Homo sapiens: one gene and its partner. The protein of the gene in region 2 purifies or fractionates together with the protein of the main gene of each other region. This does not show direct contact. Each region holds a gene or a part of one and is shown on either strand. Other genes may lie near its edges. The genes, in order: PLBD1 and OR1N1.

What was found.
Region 1: the proteins of OR1N1 (region 2) and PLBD1 purify together in Homo sapiens (affinity purification with mass spectrometry; one large-scale study listed by BioGRID and IntAct). This does not show direct contact.

The regions. Positions count from the first base shown.
Region 1 is NC_000012.12:14,557,827-14,561,655, forward strand, and holds part of PLBD1 (phospholipase B-like 1 precursor), read right to left. Parts: intron 1-3,829. UniProt on the Homo sapiens protein: In view of the small size of the putative binding pocket, it has been proposed that it may act as an amidase or a peptidase.
Region 2 is NC_000009.12:122,525,857-122,529,011, forward strand, and holds OR1N1 (olfactory receptor 1N1), read right to left. Parts: upstream 1,438-3,155; coding exon 502-1,437; downstream 1-501. UniProt on the Homo sapiens protein: Odorant receptor.

The DNA of each region.
Region 1 (3,829 bases), on a different chromosome or scaffold from region 2:
AAAATAAAAGTTAAAAACAGAAATACCATTCAACCCAGTAATCCCATTACTGGGCATATACCCAAAGGAATATAAATTGTTCTATCATAAAGACACTTGCATACGTATGTTCATTGCAGCATTATTCACAATAGCAAAGACACAGAATCAACCTAAATGCCCATCAGTGGTAAACTGGATAAAGAAATTGTGGTACATATACACAATGAAATACTACGTAGCCAAAAAAAAAAAAAAAAAAGACTGTCTATCAAATATGCACTAAAAGTAGAGTCTTAATACTAGAGCATCATGGCACCGTGCTCCCGGGGCTCGGTGATAGGCTGGGGCTTAGTCAGGCTTAGAAACTAATCCTGATTAAACGCTTAAGGAATGATCTGAGTAGGCCTAAGTCAATTGACTTCTGAGTACAATGACCATCATGGCAGGCCTTCACAATCGTTAATCGGAAGTAATGGCATTAAGAAATAGGGAGGTGTCAAATAATTTGCCAATAAACTGCGGGTGACAAATAATTGTCTGATTGTTAATGGAGCCATTTGGCCACAATTTGACAATTGTAGGCAGCACCCACAGAAACTTCCCTTCTCCACCCAAAGGCAATAAATGTGTTTTCCAAATCCATTTTTGACCATATATCCCCAGCTTTTCTCACACATTCCCTTCCACCCTCGACTCCAGGGAGCGTTGTAGGGAAATGAGGAAGTGTGGCTGCTGGAATAAAAAGCAGAGTCATAAACAGGAACCATAAAAGAAAAAAGGAAGGTGTGTCTCTTCTCTTTTCTTTCTACCCACAAAGCATGATTTTAGCTTTTTCTTCTTCTCCAAAACCTTGGCATTTCTCATCGTAAGCACCCCAGGCCTGCCTTCCCCTTCCCTTTCCAATCAACTCCTTTTTGCTGTAATTTGGGGCTTGCTCAAGGCAACCTGAGTACTAAACCAAGAGCTATGTTTTCACTGTTGCTGGTCCTACCTAATTTCCTGACCACAAAAAGAAACTTCTGCAAATATGTGCTTTTTTGACACTCGTGTACCTCCATGAATGAAAAAACCTTTACTCAATCCCCAAGAGATTTTGGTGAGAAAAATGTCCTGCCAACAGCTTAGCATGTGCTTTGAGAATAAAGCCAAAATCAGAGTTTTCACTCCACTCCAACCGAGGTCCTCCATTCCTCAATGTTTTCTCTAAGTTTCAACTCTTCCTGGTTTTCCCAGTATTCATGCTATTTTCTGATTTTCTTAAATCCTGTAATAGTTTAAGCCATTATACTTTTCCATTTTTTAAAAACATCTTCATGATGGGAGGTGGCTGGTATGAAAAATGTAATAGTGAAAAGGTAGAAAAATAGTACATAATTCTAATGCAAACCTAGTTTTATACAAGCTCTGTGAAAGCGCGGACTGTTTCTGCTTAACACTCTATAAACCTGACAAAATAATGTTTCTTTGATGAATCTAGTTTGTGTGTGTTCTCTAAATGAAAAGAAAGCCATTTATTTATTTATTTATTATTTATTTTTGAGCTGGGGTCTCGCTCTGTTGCTCAGGCTGGAGTGCAGTGGCACAATCACAGCTCACTACAGAGTGGAATTCCTGGGTTCAAGCAATCCTCCTACCTGAGCCTCCCAGAAAAGGAAGCTCATCAGAGCACTCATTCACAGAAGTTAGTATGAAATAACTCAAGTAATTATGTTTTCAAGCCTGGGTGAGAAACTTACTAAATGGCTCGGAATCTTGGATTAAGTCTACCCAGCCCCAAGAGCAAGAGCTATTTGTTGGTATTTTCTTTAGAGTTGTGAAAAGGAAAAGTCAGAATTCAAACATTTTAACAGCAATATCCTCAAAATCAATGCACTTGATTAAATATCTGTTGAATGAATGGGAATCTTATTTATAAAAAGTATTTTTTTCTATAAATAAAGATGGAAAATGTGCCATCATTTTTATATTTCTCTCTGTAAAAGCCCAAACACCAAAATTAAATTTATTTTATTAATATTTACTTGTATACTCTGATTAATATTTTATTTATTTAATTTTTTTTTTTTTTGAGACAGAGTTTTCGCTCTTATTGCCCAGGCTGGAGTGCAATGGTGCGATCTTGGCTCACCACAGCCTCCGCCTCCCGGGTTCAAGCGATTCTCCTGCCTCAGCCTCCCAAGTTGCTGGGATTACAGGCATGCGCCGCCACGCCTGGCTAATTTTGTATTTTTAGTACAGACAGGGTTTCTCCATGTTGATCAGGCTGGTCTCGAACTCTTGACCTCAGGTGATTTGCCTGCCTTGGCCTCCCAAAGTGCTGGGATTACAGGCATGAGCCACTGCGCCCAGCCCAATTAATATTTTCTATGAGTTCATTGTTTTCAGTTGAAAAAATTCCTACCCTGTCTTAGGAAAAAAAATGTATAAAATACTCATAAGTAGCTTAAACTATTCTCTCCCATATTTGGATTCTATAATAATTTTTCTAGCACCTCATTTATGAAAGAGCAGGTAGTTTTCAACCCCAAGCAATGCAATGTTTACTTAATATATTCAGAAGTCAGAGGGGAAAAAAAGAGAAAGAAATGAGAAAGAGATCAAGCAAAAGATGTTGGAGAAAATAGAAAAAAATTAAAATGAAAACAATCTATTCATATTGGGTTTAGCTAAAAATTCACTGGTTTTGGTCCTTGAATTGCTTTTCTCTTTTATGTCTGCTCGGCTAGTCTCTCAGTATACCTCTGTGTACCTTGGCATTGCACTTGCCTTCTTTGAAAGGTCTCTCAGTAAATTGATACCTGGTTTTTGGATTTGTTTTGACTCTTCATCGGAGTCACTAACGAAATAACTGATTTGTAAATTAAACAATCTCCAGTAAACAAAATTGCAAGTAGGTGTTTAAGCCTTGGCTCTCTCCAGATATCAGAGACTAAGATGCCTGCTGGAAGGAGGATTATTTTGGCAAGTACTTCCAGAGAACAGGAGTGGTGGGCTGGGAGAGTGAAAGGGAGGAACACCGATTGAAGGGTGCATTCTGAGCTGGTTTCCACTGTGGACACAGGGGTTGATCCCACTGGGACTAGCCTCGGAAATCTTCATCCCAGGGATGGAGGACCCAGCTACCTGCTCCCATACTACAAAGGTCAAACGTTGCCCTAGGAAGGGTTAACTCCCTCACTCCATGTCTGCATGTGCTCCAGGACTAAGTGGCTGTGATTTCAGAGACGCCCTGAGGTGGAAATTAAGAGATTTCTACAGTGAGGTTGAGATGAGGCACCTCAGATCACCTGCAGGAAGTGGAAATAAAAGGCAAGTGAGAGGATGTGAGGTGGGCCTCAGGGTCAGGAAGTGCAGGACACACTAGATAAGTAGAAAGGGATACAGCTTTAAAAACTAGCTTCAAAACAACAATCCACAAATGCAGAAAAATGCCGGAGATTTGCTTAGATCTGGAATGATCCCTTTCCTTCATCCCGTTGAAACATACCGATTTGTCACTGGCAGCTGAAATCAGAGTTCTTGCCAAAAGCCCTATCAGCTGAAAGTCAACTTTGCCCCATTCTGGTTCCATGCTGTTAGGTCAGTCCTCATCTAGATTACTCATTAATTATGCATTTGTGTCTGCTTGGTCCTAAAAATTTGATTACAAGCTCCTTGCAGATGAGAGGTGGAGTCTCACATTTCATTGTATCCACTCCCTTGGGCCTAGCACAATGCTTTATGGATTACGTGGCCACCTGGATCCCCAACTTTCTTTTGTTTTGAGACAGAGTTTCGCTCTTGTTGCCAAGGCTGGAATGCAATGGCACGGTCTCGGCTCACCGCAACCTCCGCATCCCGGGTTCAA
Region 2 (3,155 bases):
CCCACTTAATGCCACAAACAAAACAAGTGCCCCCAAAATTTTAATGATCGACAAATTAATAACCTAGAATGAAAGTGTCATGAAAGCAGGGACTTTGTCTTGCTCAGTGTCATAACCCTAGCACTTACAATAACTTCCAACACACCATAGATAGTAAATATTTATTGAACAAATATATCTCAGAGAAAAGATTTTTTGACTTCTGAGTTGGGGGAGGAATGAAGAATACTAATAGTAATAATAATAGCTATCCCTTATTGAACACCTACTGTTATTCACTACTATACTGAATGCATTTCATAGTTTATTTCAGTTAATCCTCCAAGTTACATTATTAGATAGAAACTGTTATCTCCATTTTATAAATGAGAAAACCAAGGCTCAGAGAGGCTAAGTAACCAGACTACAATCTTATGGCTAGTGTGTGGTAGACCCCAAAATGAAGCCCGTTTGTCTGACTCCAAGCCTATGTCTTTTCATTAAATGTTGCTGTCACCACATCTAAGAGGAAACAATACTCCTGTGACTGAAGAGCCTCTTTAGGGCCCCCTTCATGTCCTTGTTCCTTAGGCTATAGATAAAGGGGTTCAACATGGGAGTCACTATGGTGTACATTGCAGCTGCTGCAATGTCCTTCTCTTCAGAGGCAATGGAGGGAGGACACAGGTAGGCACTGAAGAGGGTCCCATAGAACACACAAACAACGCAGAGGTGGGAACTGCAGGTGGAAAAGGCCTTGCCCACCCCACCACGGGTTCGGACCCTCAGGATAGCTGGCACAATGTGGATGTAGGAGGTGACAATGCATAAAAAGGGGACGATGAGTACGGTGCCTCCCAAGACAAAAACCATCATCTCGTTGATGTGGGTGTCAGAACATGACAGCTTCAGGACAGGAGTGATGTCACAGAAAAAGTGAGCAATTTCCCCAGTCACACAGAAGGACAACCGAGCCATGAGGAACGTGTGAGTCAGGGCAACGATATTGGTGAGGACCCAGCACAATGCAAGCATTAGGGCACAGACTTGGGGCCTCATGACTGTGGAGTAGCAGAGGGGGTGGCAAATGGCCACATAGCGGTCATACGCCATGGCAGCCAGGAAGAAGCTGTCTAGATCACCAAACATCAGAAAGAAATACATTTGCGTGAGGCAACCCGTATAGGAGATGGTGTGATGCCGAGTCTGTATATTCACCAGCATCTTGGTAACTGTGGAGGACGTTAAACCCATGTCAACAAAAGACAGGTTGGCCAAGAAAAAGTACATGGGGGTGTGGAGGTGCAGGTCAGAGCCAATGGCCAGGATGATGAGCAGGTTCCCAGTCAAGGTGACAAGATACATACACAGGAAAATTCCGAAGAGGGACTGCTGTTGCTCTGGAGGCGCTGATATTCCTCGGAGGAAAAATTCAGAAATGCTGGATTGGTTTTCCATGACTCTGCAGCATCTGGAGCTGAGGGAAGACAGTTAGAATGCTAGATTTCATCTACAACTGTGTGGGCTGACTCCCAAATCTCCCTTTAAGTTCATTATATTCCTAATCCTGACTTTATCTTCATTCTGATCCTGCTTCTTTTCTCTCTTCATCAGAGTCTCATTTTCCCCCTTTCTCCTCTCTTTACCACTATTTAATCTTTTACACATAGAGTCCCCTTCCAATAAGGTCAGGGCATATTCTCCCTTGGCATGACCATGCCTTAGACTAGTCTATAGCCTCATGTTAGTTTCATTTTTGCAGTAGGCTGTCTATGTGAGTAGACTGAGGTCAGCTAAATTTTACATTCTTTTGGGAGGTAGCCAAAAAACCCACACAAAATTCTTAATTTTGACACATCCTCATTCATTTTAGAGTGAAGGGCATATGAAGGACTCATGCCTCTTTATTTTTTCATTATTTCTTTTGAAAAAGAAAATACGAAGTCCTGCATTTCTCCCTGCATTTGAGTTTTTGTCATTGGCATCATCATCATCCTGTAGCTAACGCATATTACATGTTAGCCACATATATGACAGGTACTCTACTAAGTACTTTATGAAGATTGTTTCCTTTAATCCTTAAACAACACTAGGATGCAGAGATTGTTATTCTTACCCTTATATAAGAAAACTGAGTCTAAGGATGTTTAAGTAAATTGTACAAGGACCCAGAGCTCATAAATATTTGAGACAGAATTCAAACCCACAGCAATGGTTTCCAGAGACTGTACCATCAGTCAATATAGATAGAAAGTAACTTTCTAGGACCACATTTATATTTAATCCCTCAGTATTCTTAGTTTAACGTATTTAGTCTCACTTGCCTTTACTATCTTTTATATGTGTGTTTTACAGAAGAACAACGAAATTTAAGAACTAGATAGAACCTGAAAGATCACCTGGCCCAGAGGTCTCAAGCATTGGTCTGTAGACCAGTTTATCATAATCAAGTGAGATGCTTATTTAAAATCCTGATCCCGGCTGGGCACAGTGGCTCATGCCTGTAATCCCAGCACTTTGGGAGACCGAGGCAGGCGGATCTACCTGAGGTCAGTAGTTCAAGACCAGCCTGACCAACATGACAAAACCCCATCTCTATTAAAAATACAAAAATTAGCCGGGTGTGGTGGCATGTGCCTGTAATCCCAGCTACTTGGTAGGCTGAGGCCGGAGAAGCACTTGAGCCTGGGAGTTGGAGGTTGCAGTGAGCCGAGATCATGCCATTGCACTCCAGCCTGGGCAATAGAGCAAGACTCCGTCTAAAATAAATAAATAAATAAAGATAAAAATAATAATCCCTACCTCAGACCTGTCAAATTTAAATTTCTAGGATACAATTTAGGTACCTGTATTTAAAAACTAAAACTGAAGGCTTCTCAGGTATTTTGATGCTCAGTGAGGATTAAGAAAATTTTGCTTAGTCCAACTCCTCCCTTTGATTCAGATAAATAAGCTAAAGTTCAAAAGACCAAAGTGATTGAAAAAGTTTACACTATGTCTTGGAGGAAGATACGGTATGAAAACCAGGGTATCAATGCTCTCAGACAGGTGTTCTTTTTAAAAATCAGCTATCTTTTCATTTTTAGAATTCTTTGTCATTAATATCTTACAGATCTAGATGTGTTTCTTTGTCCTGATTTATATTTAGAGTCTATACCTGAATAAAAAGTTATCTT